2 separate regions of the Homo sapiens genome follow, and region 2 is linked to region 1. The links come from fine-mapping of genetic effects on gene expression. Tissue or cell type: monocytes. Region 1 holds a variant in brackets; the other region holds the start of a gene. All regions are shown on one strand. Distances are between the middles of the regions.

Region 1 (8,000 bases):
AACAGTATGTTACCTTCTTGAGCAGATTTTCTAGACATAGGTTGGGGAGATAGGCCCCTGTAGTCCCAGCTACTCAGGAGGTTAAAGCGGGTGGGTGGATCACTTGAGGCCAGGAGTTCAAGAACAGCCTGGGCAACATGGTGAAACCCTGTCTCTACAGAAAATACAAAAACAATTAGCTAGGTGTGGTGCATGCCTGTGGTTCCAGGGTCTGGCTTGATTGCCCAGGCAGTGACTGTGCAGTGGCACAGTCTCTTCCTCCCAGGCTCAGCCTCCCAAGTAGCTGCGACTACAGACGCATGCCACCATGCCCGGCTAATTTTTTTTATTTTTTGAAGAGATGGGTTTGCCATGTTGCCCACCCTGCTTCAGCCTCCCAAAGTGCTGGGATTACAGGCATGAGCCTGTTTGGTTCCTTCGTTCATTCTTTCTTTCTTTCTTTCTGTCTTTCTGTCTTTTTTTTTTTTTTTTTTGGTGATAGAGTCTTGCTTTGTTGCCCAGGCTGGAGTTCAGTGGCACAATCACTGCTTTCTGCTGCCTCAGCCTGCTGAGTAGCTGAGACTACAGTCTCATGCCACCGTGCCCAGCTAATGTTTTGTATTTTTTTAGAGATGTGGTTTTGCCATGTTACCCAGGCTGGTCTGAAACTCTTGGGCTCAAGCGATCCACCCTCCTCAGCCTCCTAAAGTGCTAGGATTACAGATGTGAGCCACCGGTCCCAGCCTTTTTTTGTAATTTATATATTTATTTTTGAGACAGAGTTTTGCTCTTGTTGCCCAGGCTGGAGTGCGATGGCGTGATCTCGGCTCATTGCAACCTCTGCCTCCCGGCTTCAAGCAATTCTGCCTGAGCCTCCGGAGTAGCTGGGATTACAGGCACGAACCACCACACCTGGCTAATTTTGTATGTTTACTAGAGACGGGGTTTCACCATGTTGACCAGGCTGATCACAAACTCCATGTAGTTTAAATTGAAAGAAACCGGATCAGGTTTTACCATCTTACTGTTTTTTCATTCTTCTTTGTTCTGCTGTAATAGAGTGAGGAATTATTAGTTAGATACAATTTAAGGGTTTTTGAGAGCTTTACAAGGATGGAGTTAGTTGGATTTTATGTTAGGATTATAGGAGTGGCACAAAGACAACTTCCTATTGTATGCATGAGGTATATGTATTGTAGGCATTGCTCCTCTACCTTCTATTGTGTTTTACTCCATGTACAGCCAACTAACTGAGCTATAGAGTATCATAACTTGGCCCTTTAATTTTCTTTTTGAAGGTTGTAGCTTCTAGTCCCTAGAGCTTCTGTAATTAGGTGGTCATAAAAATGCACATAGGGCCAAGGTCACAGAGAAATCTTGATTGTGGCCTTCAAGCAGATTGACTTTATTATTGACTTTATTTAATGTCATTTTAGTGAGATTTTTGTTTGCTTGTTAATTCGTTTATGAAGAATGACCAACTGTGTTTACAGGCAGATGAAGGGAAGGGTAGGGAGGTGTGGGACTTGGGAAAGGATAGTTGTACATTGGATGACTAAAAGGCTTTATCTCAGCTGGGCACAGTGGCTCACGCCTGTAATCCCAGCACTTTGGGAGGCCGAGGTAGGTGGATCACCTGAGGTCAGGAGTTCGAGACCAGCCTGGCCAACACGGTGAAACCCCGTCTCTACTAAAAATCCGAAAATTAGCTGGGCATGGTGCTGCACACCTGTAATCCCAGCTACTCAGGAGGCTGAGGCAGGAGAATTGCTTGAACCCAGGAGGCGGAAGTTGCAGTGAGCTGAGATCACGCCACTGCACTCCATCCTGGGCGACAGACTCCATCTCAAAAAAATGAAAAAATAAATAAGTAAATAAATAAAATAAAAAAATAGACTTTATCTCATCATAAAAACTTTTTAATCTAATTTCTCTTTTTTCTAGCTTCAGGCTCCTGGCAAAGGCCTAACTAGCAATAAAAGCAAGGATGACCTGGTGGTAGCTGAAGTAGAAATTAATGATGTGCCTCTCACATGTAGGAACTTGCTGACTCGAGGACAGACTCAAGACGAGGTGAGGAGGCATTGAGACTCTTTGGGGAGGGCGGTGAGTGGATTCAGATAAAGAAGACCTCTAAATAGACAGGCGTCAGATATTTATTAGTGGGTTTGGGTCATAGTCTCTAAAGTCAGGATTGGGTTTAATTTAACTTCAGAGGAAGATAATGGAATGGATATAAATGAATTCTCTGGGTTGGTTTGAGTAAGAAACCATGGAATCAAAATTTCAGATACAGGAGAGAATTCTTTCCTTCTTTACTTGGTTGAATGAATGAATGGGAAGAAAATCTGTCTGCCATTGAAATCAACCAATTGCCACATTTTTTTAATTGAACATTTCCTTTTTTAGATCAGCCGACTTAGTGGGGCTGCAGTATCAACTCGAGGGAGGTTCATGACAACTGAGGAAAAAGCCAAAGTGGGACCAGGGTGCGTATTCTCTTATCTTGTTTATGGAAGGGTTGGGTGTATGACTCACGTTAGCCTCATGTTTTTTATCCTTAGGTAATACGTGTACACAATATTTGATTCAAGGTTTGAGGGGTATGTGTGTGCACACTATAGCAGAATTCTGGATATCAAACAGATACAAGATGTTGGGACCTGTTTTTGGACTTTTATTTCACATTTAATGTTTTTATTGGAGGAAACAAATTATAGGAAAGTGTAAAAGAAGATACTAACCACTAACATTTAATGTATATACTCTTTTTTCTTCTTTCTGTTCCATATGATCTGCAGAAATAATGTATATACTTTTTTTTTTTTTTTTTGAGATGGAGTCTTGCTCTGTCGCCCAGGCTATAGTGCAGTGGCGTGATCTCGGCTCACTTCAAACTCTGCCTCCTGGGTTCATGCCATTCTCCTACCTCAGCCTCCCGAGTAGCTGGGACTACAGGCACCTGCCACCACGCCTGGCTAATTTTTTGTATTTTTAGTAGAGACAGAGCTTCACCGTGTTAGCCAGGATGGTCTTGATCTCCTGACCTTGTGATCCACCCCCCTCGGCCTCCCAAAGTGCTGGGATTACAGGCGTGAGCCACCACGCCCGGCATTGTATATACTTCTTAACTTTTTTCTGTGGAAATAGTTCCCCTCACAAATGGGCTCTTTTTTTTTTTTTTTTTTTTTGTCTTTATGATGGTTATAGTTTGTGATTATTCAGGTAAAGACTTAATCTGTTTCATTTTATTCCTTCCATCATTCCGTGTTTGAGTTTCTCTTCACTGTCAGTTGATAGGTACTTAGGGAATGCAACATTTTTAACATTAGCTTAAACTACACAAAATAAGGTGGCAAAATTTAATTCCTACCCCAAGCCAAGAATTTATTTATTTATTTATTTATTAGAGAAGGAGTTTTTGCTCTTGTTGCCCAGGCTGGAGTGCAATGGCGCCATCTCGGCTCACTGCAACCTCTGCCTCCTGGGTTCAAGCAATTCTCTGGCCTCACCCTCCCGAGTAGCTGGGATTACAAGCATGCGCCACCACACCCGGCTAAATTTTGTATTTTTAGTAGAGATGGGGTTTCACGATGTTGGACAGGCTGGTCTCAAAAGTCCTGACCTCGGGTGGTTCCCCTGCCTCGGCCTCCCAAAGTGCTGGGATTACAGGCATGAGCCACCGTGCCCAGCCCCAAGAATGTATTTAAACTTTCTATATGTGTTGATTGCTGTTTTGAACTTTGTCTTTAAAAAGTTATTTTTACCTGCTACTTTTTATTAACTATATATGGTTATTGATCACTTTATTATAATTTAAGTCCTCTTCACATTTAGAATCTAAATTATCAGTTGATGTAGACCTTAAGAGGTTTCTCTATATGCATGATCAATCTTTCCCCATTAATT[TTGTGTGTGTGTGTG/G]TGTGTGTGTGTGTGTGTGTGTGTGTGTGGTTTTTTTTTTTTTTTTTTTTTTTTTTTTGGAGACAGAGTCTTGTTCTGTTGCCCCGGCTGGTGTGCAATGGCATGATCTTGGGTCATTGCAACCTCCACCTCCTGGGTTCAAGTGATTCTTGTGCCTCAGCCTCCTGAGTAGCTGGGACTACAGGCGTGCCACCATGCCCGGCTAATTTTTGTAATTTCAGTAGAGATGGGGTTTTGCCATGTTGGCCAGGCTGGTCTCAAACTCTTGGCCTCATGTCATCCACCCACCTCAGCCTCCCAAAGTGCTGGGATTACAGACATGAGCCACAGCACCCAGCTTGCCCCATTGATTTGGATAGACGAGACCACATTTGTTTATAACCTATTAGACAACCAGCAAAAAGGAATTCTGTTCTTAAATATTGGGTTATCTCAATAGACTGGAAAATAATGGTAGTGAATCCATAAGAACAGATTTGATCTGAACTCTGTGGGCCAGTTGACTTTTAAAATCAAGAAGTTTATTTGTTCCCCAGCTGTTAAAGCATGTTCTGAGACATTAGCTAGCAAAAACCCTTCTAATGTATATAGTCCCTTTTGGTTATTTGGAAACTTGAAACATTACAAATTAGATCTGGTGACCCATTTGACTCCTTTTTTGGTTTTGACCACATTGAGATCATCCTTTTTTGTTTCTCTTTATAGGGATCGTCCATTATATCTTCATGTTCAGGGCCAGACACGGGAATTAGTGGACAGTAAGTAATGTTTTTGGCTCACGTAGCACTTTTTGTGAAGAGCAAAGTACAGGGCTCTGTATAGCAAGTTGGCAAAGTGTCCCTGATGGCTGTTCTAACCCTTGTTCATGAACTATACACGAATTTGTATGGGAGTTTAGAGGGATGGAGAGCCACATATTTGGGTAACGTATAAAGCAGATTTACGGTGAATAATTGAACACTGGCCTGCCTGGGCACTAGTCAGTTCATTCCATTCAGTTTTACTGTCTGTGTTTTTCTAAGGAGCTGTAAACCGGATCAAAGAAATTATCACCAATGGAGTGGTAAAAGCTGCCACAGGAACAAGTCCAACTTTTAATGGTGCAACAGTAACTGTCTATCACCAGCCAGCACCCATCGCTCAGTTGTCTCCAGCTGTTAGCCAGAAGCCTCCCTTCCAGTCAGGGGTATGTTTTGGGGAGGGATCGTTAATAGCATTATCATTTCTATAAAAATGATATGTGCTGGCCAGGCACAGTGGCTCATTCCTGTAATCCCAGCACTTTGGGAGGCCAAGGTGGGTGGATCATTTGAGGTCAGGAATTTGGACCAGCCTGACCAACGTGGTGAAACCCCGTCACGAACATTACCCGGGCATGGTGGCAGGCACCTGTAACCCCAGCTACTTGGGAGGCTGAGGCAGGAGAATTGCTTGAAGCCGGGAGGTGGAGGTTGCAGGGAGCTGAGACCATGCCACTGCACTCCAGCCTGGGCCACAGAGCAAGACTCCATCTCAAAAAAAAAAAAAAAAAAAAAAGTGCCAAGTAATACATACAAAGAAAAAAAAATCGTGAAATTCCAAATTCCAATCCCGAAAGTTACCTGCCATAGGTATTCTGTTTGTGTGTTATCCAGCTCTCCACGGTATAATGAACACCTGATCACACATTTCTTCATATTGATATATTCTAGAAAGGAGATTGATAGAGCAGAAGGTATACATGTTGTACATTTTGAAGTTAGTGGTTTTAATTTGTATTTGTAAACTTGATGACAACTGGAGGACTAAGAAGGCTGAGTCTGATGAAGTAAGACTTTGCTGATACATTCCTCCTAGAAAAAAGGGTTGGAGAGAGCAGCCTTCACTGAAGAGTATCACAGGGCTGACTGTACTACCCAACACTCTACCCCAGTTTTACAGGAGACTGTCTTTGCTATAATTTCTTATTGACTTATTTCAAAGATTGAGGATTTAATTATATATTCTGTTTAATCTGAAGTATTCTGTTCTTCCTACAGATGCATTATGTTCAAGATAAATTATTTGTGGGTCTAGAACATGCTGTACCCACTTTTAATGTCAAGGAGAAGGTGGAAGGTCCAGGCTGCTCCTATTTGCAGCACATTCAGATTGAAACAGGTGCCAAAGTCTTCCTGCGGGGCAAAGGTTCAGGCTGCATTGAGCCAGCATCTGGCCGAGAAGCTTTTGAACCTATGTATATTTACATCAGGTATGGATGGATAGGGCAGGGGACATGTGAATTCTTGTCAACTTGTTGGTACAGTCAGGAGTGATTCAGAAGGAGCAAGAGAAAACTGGGTGTAATTAATAGTAATGAGGGATTTAGATAAATGCTAGGAGTAATTACTTTATAATTAGTTAAAGAAATTGTAGAATTGGGGCACGGTGGCTCATGCCTGTAATCCCAACACTTCTGGAGGCCAAGGCGTAGGACCACTTGAGCCCAGGAGTTTGAGGCCAGCCTGGGCAACATAGCAAAACCCCATCTCTCCAAAAAAATTTTAAAAATTAGGCGGGCACGGTGGCTCACACCTGTAATCCCAGCACTTTGGGAGGCCGAGGCGGGTGGATCACGAGGTCAGGAGATCGAGACCATCCTGGCTAACAAGGTGAAACCCCGTCTCTACTAAAAATAAAACAAAAAAAATTAGCCGGGTGTGGTGGCAGGCGCCTGTAGTCCCAGCTACTCAGGAGGCTGAGGCAGGAGAATGGCGTGAACCCGGGAGGTGGAGCTTGCAGTGAGCTGAGATTGCGCCACTGCACTCCAGCCTGGGTGACAGAGCGAGACTCCATCTCAAAAAAAAAAAAAAATTAGCCAGGTGTTATGGTGTACACCTTAATCCCAGCTGCTCAGTAGGCTGAGGCAGGAGGATGGCTTGAGCCCAGGAGATTAAGGCTGCAGGTAGCTGTGTTTGCACCACTGCACTCCAGACTGGGTGACTGAGTGAGACCCTGTCTTAAAAAAAAAACCAGGTGCGGTGGCTCACACCTGTAATCCCAGCACTTTGGGAGGCCGAGGCAGGCGGATCACTTGAGGTCAGGAGTTCGAGACTACCCTGGCCAACATGGTGAAACCCTGACTCTCCTAAAAGTATAAAAATTAGCCAGGTGTGGTGGCAGGCACCTATAATCCCAGCTATTCAGCAGGCTGAGGTAGGAGAATTGCTTGAACCCTGGAGGCGGAGGTTGCAGTGAGCTGAGACTGCTCCATTGCACTCCAGCCTGGGCAACAGAGCAAGACTCCATCTCAAAAAAAAAAAAAAAAAGAGAAATTATTGAATTAGGAGACGGAATTATCTCTTTAGTATTCAAGTCCTTTGGTTTTGTACAAGTCTGTACAAAAGTGAATCTTGGCCTGTAATCCCAGCACTTTCAGGGCCGAGGCGGATGAATCAGGTCAGGAGATTGAGACCATCCTGGCTAATACAGTGAAATCCCGTTTCTACTAAAAATAAAACAAAAAAATTAGCCAGGCATGGTGGCAGGCGCCTGTAGTGCCAGCAACTCGGGGGCTGAGGCAGGAGAATGACGTGAACCCAGGAGGTGGAGCTTGCAGTGAGCTGAGATCGCGCCACTGCACTCCAGCCTGGGCAACAGAGCAAGATTCTGTCGCCTCCTGCCTCAGCGTCCCAAGTAGCTGGGACTATAGGCACCCGCCAACATGCCCGGCTAATTTTTTGTATTTTTAGTAGAGATGGGGTTTCACCGTGTTAGCCAGGATGGTCTCGATCTCCTGACCTCGTGATCCGCCTGTCTCGGTCTCCCAAAGTGCTGGGATTACAGGCGTGAACCACCACGCCCGGCCAAAAAAAAGCAAATCTTAAAGTGAGCTGTGATAAGTCTGAAATAATTTTCATTTAAACCTATGTCAATATTAATACGTTTTATAGTAATTTTATGAACTTTAAACATTTTTATATCGAGAAGTACCATTACTCAGAGAAAGACTAATAAAATATTTGTGGTAATGATAGTGGTTATATCTTAAAAGACTTATGTTTTGTGTTTCTGTTTTGTGATTTTCAGAGGCCTAGATTTGAGCTACAGTGAATGTATTAATGTAGATATGTAAAATAG
Region 2 (8,000 bases), 52 kb before region 1:
TGAAATGCCCACATCCAGGAAGTCCTAGGAGGTCAGGATGGGGGCTTATCTTTCTCTCCCAATCCTTCCTCTTTCTTCCTTCCCATTCTGGCTCTGCTGGTCATGGCACCTTCATCCACCATCTCTCAGGAAGTTATCTTTTTCTTCATTTCCAGCATTACCTCCATCTCCTCATGTCTTCTTTTTCTCTATGCAGCTGCAGCCAGCTGGAAGGACATTCAGGTACCCGGGTAGGCTCCTCCCTGCGACAGACCTTCAGCTTCCTCTCGGGCATGACCGGAAAGGCCAAGGTAGGAGTCAGCTGGGGAAGCAGGAGGCTTGGGACCCACTGCCCTCTCCAGTTCCCTTTCTCCCATCCCACCATCGCCACCTCCCACCACTCCCCCTATTAGAAACTCAGAGCAATGGTTCCATTTTTTATTTTTTTATTTTTTTAAGAGAGGGGGTTTCTGTCTCCCAGGCTGGAGTACAATGGCACAATCATAGCTCACTGCAGCCTCTAACTCTTGGGCCCAGGAAATCCTCTTGCCTTTACCTCCCAAAGTGCAGGGATTACAGGTGTGAGCCACTGTGCCCAGCCAAATGCTTCAAATTTTAAGGAAACACATGCTATCTCTTCCAGCCTGTGTCTCTGTGTCCCAGTAAATCACCTTTTCTCTGCTTTCCCCTACGCATCCAGCTTAGCAGTCAGCTGTGGACAGATGGAAGGGGAAAAGGGCCAGGAACCTCAGAAGCTGAGGAATGGCCTAGCCCTCCCTCTCTTTAGGCCTCACATAGCTGACAGGTGGGCAGCGGAAACCTCAACCATTGGACATAATAATGATAATAATTACAGCACTACTTTTTACTTCTTCATAGAGTATCAGGGTTTGCAAAGTGCTTTTACACTCATAATTTTATGGGTGGGTACAGCAGCTGAAGGAGTTGAAATTAGACCACAGGCAGAGTAGAAGCTGGGAAAGTATATGATTATGGAAGCACATGCATACCCGTACATGTGCGGCCATGTGCTGTTCTGATCCCAGGAAGTGAAGGCACATTGTTCTCATCCTTATTACCAACCGTTGGGCTCTGGTGAAACCGGGAGCTCTGCCTGCTCCTTGAATTTGTTTCCACTTTCTTCATTTACTGTCAGAGTGAGCCGCCCCCCTTTTCCTCCCCTGGCCTCCCCAAGTATGCATGTGCTTTCCAACTCGGGGCGGCTTCTGAGTATTGAAAGAAACCCCAGGGAAATCATCATCATATTCACCTTGAAGAGCCATGAGATTCTCACCAGTAAGGTTGCCTGGGCTCCTCCCAGCCCCACCCGCAGTGCCAGGGTTCTCCCCTCTTCCAGCCTTTTTTTAGCCAAGATTCCCTTTTCTCTGGGTGGGCTGGGAAGGTCAAGATGAAAGCAGGTCATGTTGTTAGCACCTCTCACCACAGGCCATGGGTCGGGAGTTGAGGCTAATGGAGGCATGAGACTGGGTGAGTCTCAGAAGAGGAGCAGCTGGAGAATCTGAAAGCTGATGGGAGGGGAGGGCAGGTGGGACAGAGAGGTTTCTCTCCCATGGGGGAATGGAGATCTCGAAGGAACAAAGCAAAAGCAGAAACCTTGGGGTCTGAGTCTCACCTTCCTACAGGCTGTCTCACTGCAGGGTAGGGGAGTCTGCTAGTGGAATCACTCCCTTTTCTTGCCATGGGAATGGTAGGGGAAGTCAGTACTGCCCAGGGGCCATCCAGATCCCGGTTGGTCTGTTTGTCCACCCTTGACCTAACAGTCTGATGGAGGGTTGAGCAACCTGGTGAAGGGGAATGAGGGCAGAGACTCTGGAGCCCAGATGGGAAAGAGGGAAGCGCCAGAGTGAGTCAGGACATTGCCTCGCTCAGCCTTTCCTCCCCACGTCTGTCATCCTGTCTTCCTCTGTTTCCCTCTCCACCATCTCCTGCTACATCTTCCTTCCACCTTCATGAATGTGTGGGCCTGCTTCACTTAATCTCTTTCTCCATAAGCAGTAAACATCAGGGGGTGGGGCTGGAGAGAAGCTCAGTCAAGCAGTGAGAGAAGGAAGTAGCTTAGTCCCTCCTACTTGAGTAGCATTGCACACTTGATGAAACACTTTCAACTCATTTAATTCTTATAACAATTCTGGCAAAGATAAGTATTTCAATCTCAATTCTACAGACAAATACTTAAAGGTTAGTTACTTTGCCCAAGATCTCACAGCTCATAAGAGGTGGCGCCGTATTAGAAACTCAGGGCTTTGGCTGTGTATTGCCACTGTTTCTCTCAATAGCCGTAACACAACAGTTCATTCCCTCTCATCCTTCCCTTCTTCCAGCTTCTGGCTGGATGGCCACTTAAGGCAATTTGGCCTTAATCACCTCCTCCCAGAATATACAAGGTCCAGACCAATAGAAGAAAGAAGAAAAACAAACCACCTTGGGACAGTGTAGAGCTTGGGCTTGGGTATCCTCGGGAGACCCATCTCTTCTCCAACTGGCCGAGACTTTGGCAACCAGGTTCTTCCCTGGGACCTCCTCCCTACCCCTGAAATGGGAGGGACACATTTCGTCAAGTTAAATGGGCTAAAGAAGGTGATGGCTATTTTTAGATCCTGGTAGAAATGTTTGTTTCTGTGTATCTAAAAAATTATTTCTGAAAATCTGGAAGATATCACTGGATAGGAGTAGAGGGGGCGCTGGAATGAAGAAGGGTCTTGGAAAAGGGGGGCAGGTGACACCAAGGAGAAGGGAAAAGTGTTCATTGTTCAAGAGGATATAGAAAACGGAAACTGAGTCAAGCTGCAGGCCAAGCTCACTAAACACAGGTGTTTTTAAAGGCAGAACACTTTTCTTTTCCCTGTCCCTAGTCCCTTTCCTTGTTATTCATCTCCTAAGGGGAAGAAGAGGGCATAGGGTGAGGGGTAGGGTAACAGCAGGTGGGATGGAAAGTAGACTGAAGGTTGGGGTGGGAGACAGAAAAGAGTTGGAGGGTCGGGTCCTCTTCTTTCATAGAGACCTTCTTAGTTGAGTTGAGGGACCATGAGGTCGCTTGAAAAACCCCAGGGTTCAAATTCTATGTTTCCTGGGTACCCAGGCTGGAGTGTGGCCCTTTAAGATTCTATCCATAGCTTGCAGCACCCTCCTGCCCCAGGCCTGGGAGAGAAGCTGAGGTCCCACCCCAGATCTTGTCTCTGGGCCTCCAGTGGGTGGAACCTTGAGGCCAAGATTCTAGCCTCTGGCTGTCTGTTTTTAAATTTAGTACATTCCTGAGTCTTGGCTGCCCACCTCAGGGGAGGTGAGTCTGGAGTTCTGGGGCCAGGAGCCTCAGGCCTCTTGGTTTGGGGGAGTTCCTACACCCTCCCCGTAGGTATACTTGGCAGGTGCAAGCCAGGAAGAACAAGCTGTGGCCCTGGGGAAGTCCTTCCTGCTTTCTAATGTCCATCCAGCCTGAACTGGGCACGGTTTATTTCCTCTTCCTTTTTCCTGGTCTTTGCTATTTAAGGATTCTAAACAGGGGAATGGGTGAAGAAGGAGGTGAAGGAGTTGCTAGGAAGGAGGGGAAGCCGGAGGGGCAGTGTGGGGGTAGTGCTGGGGGTGAGGAGCCCAACCAGCTCAGCCAGTGGTGAGGTAGTGGAGCCCAAAAATAGTGGCAGAGGCTAAAATTGGCACCTACAAGAGTGCTGAGTTGGGCTTGAAACCTGCAGCCTGGCCCCACTGCTGAGCCAGGGCAGAGAACTGCTGGATCTGGGTTGGGTCTCCCCTCCCTCCCTTCTTCTCCCACGCCCTTTGGGGCCAGAATCAGGCAGGACCCTGCTAACCGAAGGCTCTGTCCCAGGCCTCTCTGTGCTTCTGGTTTCTCCAGAGAAATGGGAGACCCTGAGAGGCAGAAATGAACTTCACTGTAAGTGATCATAGTTAGACTGGAGGAGGAATTTTCCCAATAGCAGGAAACTCACCCAAAGGCTGGCTCAGGCTGGGGAAAAGGGTCCAGAGAGATGAATGCCCCACCTTACCCTGCTTCTTGGGGAGAGGCTGGTTGGGCCCTAACTTTCTTTGACTAGGGCAGGCTGGTTTCTGGTCTTTCAGTTCCGGCTTAACTTGCAACAGAGAGAACTGCAGTTAGACACATGGAAGGCCTTCGGTAAAAGTGGAGAATCCCAACCTAGTCCCCCAAAGTAGCTGGCAGAGGCGGAGCTAGGAGGAGGGCAGAGTGGGGTCAGGAAGGCCCCAGAAGGGTGGGGCATGTGGGAGAATTCTCTCCTCTCTGTTCTTCGACCTCTGGGAGTGAATCCTACCCTTCCCGTGTACTGAAGATCCAGCGTTTAGTTCTCCTTTGATTTCCTCTCCCTCTGGCCACCCCTGCCCCCAATCGTAAAAGGGGTCAGTCTGCTCAGGCCTGCTTTGATGGGACCCCGAAGGCCAGGAAGGAACTGGTCCTGGGTTTTCTAAGAGCTGGGGGCGGATGGAATTCTCCTGCCTGCGGGTCTTTAAAGACTGAGGTAACGCAGTAGGGGAGGGAAAAAGGGAGGGCGAGGGGAGAAGGGAAGAAGGGGAGGGCAGAGGGGAAAGGGCCAACCTGGGTCCGGCGAGGGCTGCGGGGCTGGGTTTTAGGAAAAGAAGAGCTAAGAGGCGGGTCTCTGGGGCTAGAGGGCGCCCCCAGGCGCTGGAGGGGAAATAGGCAGAGGGGCCTCTCAAACCTGTCCTAGGACCCTCGTACCTCTCCGAGCTGCCCCCACACAAACCCTGGCGTCCCGTCCTGCGCGCGGGCACCCCGCCCTCCCTCCGCTCCGCCTACCCCCTTCCTGAGCTTGGGCGGGGGAGGAGACTCGGGTTTGAGGAACTGGTGCTGGGTGCCGGGCGAGGGGAGTCAGACTTCCTGTCCCCGAGACCAACGCGTGCGGGCCGAACCCCTCCCCCCGCCTTCCCCCAACAATACAGGACGCCGGGGTCCGCGCCGCGTCCTCCCTGGTCCCCCCGTCCGATTATGTCTCGGATCGAATCCCTCACGCGGGCGCGGATCGACCGGAGCAGAGAGCTGGCGAGCAAGGTGGGCTCGGAAACCCCTCTCCTTTCGCCGCGGTCCTCGGGTGCTCCCCGAACCCCGGCACCCGCGGTGCATCTCCTGTCTCCCCGCCTGCTTTCTGGGCGCCAAAATCGGGCGGAGCGGTGGATCGGCGAGCGGCGGGACGGGGTGGGTGGGGACTGCGAGCGAGTGGGTAGGGGTGGGGGGAGCGGCAGACGCGACGGTGCTGGGATCCCGGGAGGGAGCGGAGCGGACCTGGGCTTGGTCGCCTCCAAGCCGGCGGGACCGAGTGCTTTAGGCCGCTTGAAAGAAAGTTGCTCCGGTAAGGGACGGAGCGGGAAGAGGGAGGTGTGTGTCTCGCGGGTGGGGGCGGTGGAAGCTCCGGCACCTCCTCTCACCCCGGGCCCCACCGGCTTGGGCTTGGCGTGGCGACCCCCCATCACTCCCCAATCGCTGGCTTGGTCGTTCCCCCTTTGTCCCCGCCATCCGGCGGAGGGGACGGGAGGGGGTGGTTTCCCGGCTTCCTCCCACCACCACCACCACCCCTCCAAGACAAAAGTCAGCTCCTCCTCTCCTCGCAAATGGACTTTCCAGCTGTGATTCAGTTCTCCCCTCTGGGTGGGCGGGTGGCTGGGGTCGGGACGGCCGAGGGACGGCTTACTTCCCCCAAACCATCACCTCTAGGTGAAGGGAGCAGAGGTCTTTGTGTAGCTGGGCTCCTTTCCTCCATCCTGAGCCCTTCTGCCTGGAACATAGGGCCTCCATCCCTATCTGCCCCGCCAGCCTCCTAGCTCTTCCTTCTCCCAACCTGAAACCCTTAGGCTGACACACCTGGCACTATGCATTGTGTTCCCTGCCCTTCCTCCTCCTCCCCCAGCGCTCTCATTCTCTTATCTGCTCGTCTTGGGGTCCCTTCACCTAGCATTTCATGAGTCTGGGTGTATAATTATCCACACGCCTCCCCCATCATGACCTCTTGGCCACTCCTCTCCAAGTACCCTTTATCCCTGCCTTTGTACCCAGCCCCATTCCCAAGTGCCCTGACCTTTCCACACCCAGACCCCAGGAAATGATGAAGCTGACTTGCAGGTGAATAAGTCAGAGCTGAAAGGAAGGTGGTGCCTGCAGACAGCACCTCCCAGCTCCTTTGGGGCCCCCGCACTGTACCCATTATCAGAAAGGACAGGTCCCAGCCCAGAGTTGGTTTAATCTCTGGCTTCTCTCCAACCTGAGTGCCCTACTACCCTGGTGCCAGCCTATGCTGATCACCAACTTCAGCCAAGGGAGCAGTACCCCTTAGGAGTCCTTAAGGGTGATGGAAAGCCCTCCCCTCCACCTCCCTGGTAGTTCCTAGCCAGGCTACCTGTCTTGATGCTAAACTGGGAGAGACAGAGGTTCCATCCTGGGTTGGGGGTGGAGGGCCAGGGAAAGCAGCTTTAAAAGGACTTTCCTTAGGGGGTTGGGATTAGATTTTGCTATCTGGAAAGCAACTGGGGATTCGAGTAGGGCCTAAGACAAACAGAGGGCCGGGGTGAGGTGGCTGAAGTGTGGTGGAACAGTGGGGTGGCAGACAGGCTCTTCACAGCCTGCGCCAGCCCAGGCCCCAGCTCCAAAAGTCTGTTTATTTTTTCAACCGTTTGAGCTGAGACCCTGGAGTAGAGCCAAGGGGGGCGGGGGAGGTTTTTTGAAACCGCAGAAATTTGGTTCCACCCTAAAAAGGAAAGCCATGGGGGAGCTGGTTGGGGGAAGACCTGGCTAGGGGGTATAGAGAGCGGTTCTGTGGGGGCAGGTAGCTACTGGGATCCCTTTTCCATTATTGTGGGGAGCTGGGACGTCAGACATCTGGGTGTTCATGCTCTGTTTTTGTTTTTGTTTTTGGTGGTGGGGGGACTGGCTCTTCTTTCTACTATGGGGGCTGGCTGTGTGGGGCAGGTAATTTGGGAATCTGGCTGGCAGCAGGGAGTCGGGGGCTGAGTGGGTGGATCTGAGAGGGCAAAGAGGCCACCGGAGAAGGGTGGTTGTCAGTTTGGGCCGGTCGGAAGGGGAGGGCCACCTCCGGAAAACTGTGGTTACAGAAGGGGGAGTTGGTTCTTAGCCAACAAACCCTGGATCCCCTCTCCCCCTCCCCCCAGCACACCAGCTGTCTCCTTTCTTTTTATACTGTGGTGGGAAGTAGAGGGGCACCCGCTGGAAAAGACATTATTTGAAGAAGATGGTGTCCCCTGCTACCTCCTTGGGGGGATGGGTCACAGCTAAGCCCTGACACCTCAGCCCCTCCCCATTCCTTGCCTCATTCCCTGGGAGCTCCTCCTAGGAGGAGGAATGTAAGTTTAACCTGCCCCTTTCTCTGTCCCATCCTCACAGGATCTCTCTGTGTAGCCCCCTCCATGCTTCCTTTTTCTTTTCACTCCATTTCTGTTCTCCCAGGCTGTCTTCAGTCCTCCACCTCCTCTGTTCTCTCTGCTCTACTTCCTACCTCCACAAGCCCCAAACCTCACAGGTCCCCTTTCTCTCTTTAGTCCCCTGTTCTTCCCTTTCTCCTTTCCCAAACCCCAACCATCATATCCCTTAGAACAAAGGGTCCTTTTCTGCCAAGCAGGGACCAGAGGTCCAGGGATGGCTGTGGAGGCTGGGGGTCCCCTTGGAATCTCTGTGGTGGGCAGGTGGAGTGGGGAGTGTGCAGAGCGACTATTTCTTTGTTCTGAGGAATGGAGAGGTGGCTGGCTTTGTGTGCAGGACTAGGAGTGCAGTGGAGAGGAGAGCTGGGGGAGCCCAGGAGGGAGCTGAGAGGGCTGACGGTGTTGGAGGAGAGTGGAAGAATGGGGGGTCCTCCTGGTGGCTGAGGCTTCTGGGGACATAGACAAAAATTCTAGGGGTCGTGGAGGTTAGGGAGAGAGTTGAGGGGGAGGGGAGAAGTGAGGATAGGGGAAGGGAGTCTAAAGCTTAGGGAAGTCACTGAGTGACTTGCAGGAGGTTAGATGGGGCCTAGAGA

Direction of the effects. Alleles are on the strand shown, and positions count from the first base shown. SD is a standard deviation of normalised expression in the study named.
For the expression in monocytes of the gene that starts at base 4,850 in region 2, G is the high allele of the variant in region 1 and TTGTGTGTGTGTGTG is the other (large effect, 1.2 SD a copy in Kim-Hellmuth 2017).

What was found. PIP is the estimated chance that this variant, and not a neighbour inherited with it, causes the effect.
Region 2: it holds the start of ARHGEF2, and the variant in region 1 is fine-mapped to the expression of ARHGEF2 in monocytes (Kim-Hellmuth 2017, PIP 0.95).

The regions. Positions count from the first base shown.
Region 1 is chr1:155,923,764-155,931,763 of GRCh38, reverse strand. KHDC4 (KH domain containing 4, pre-mRNA splicing factor) reads left to right here. Exons shown (of 14, transcript NM_014949.4): 3 at 1,924-2,052; 4 at 2,389-2,468; 5 at 4,608-4,660; 6 at 4,925-5,088; 7 at 5,921-6,132. It also overlaps SCARNA4. Among named protein-coding and RNA genes, the nearest start is that of KHDC4, 6.6 kb to the left of the region's middle. The variant TTGTGTGTGTGTGTG/G (reference allele first, on the strand shown) is at 3,889.
Region 2 is chr1:155,975,397-155,983,396 of GRCh38, reverse strand. ARHGEF2 (Rho/Rac guanine nucleotide exchange factor 2) reads left to right here and starts at 4,850. Exons shown (of 22, transcript NM_001162383.2): 1 at 4,850-5,032. The coding sequence starts at 4,970. ARHGEF2-AS2 (ARHGEF2 antisense RNA 2) reads right to left here and starts at 4,758. Exons shown (of 3, transcript NR_183460.1): 1 at 4,703-4,758; 2 at 3,942-4,077; 3 at 409-2,530. RefSeq lists enhancers at 1,432-1,491, 3,656-3,705, 3,093-3,714, 4,176-4,245, 6,376-6,455 and 2 more and silencers at 4,586-4,635, 4,696-4,855.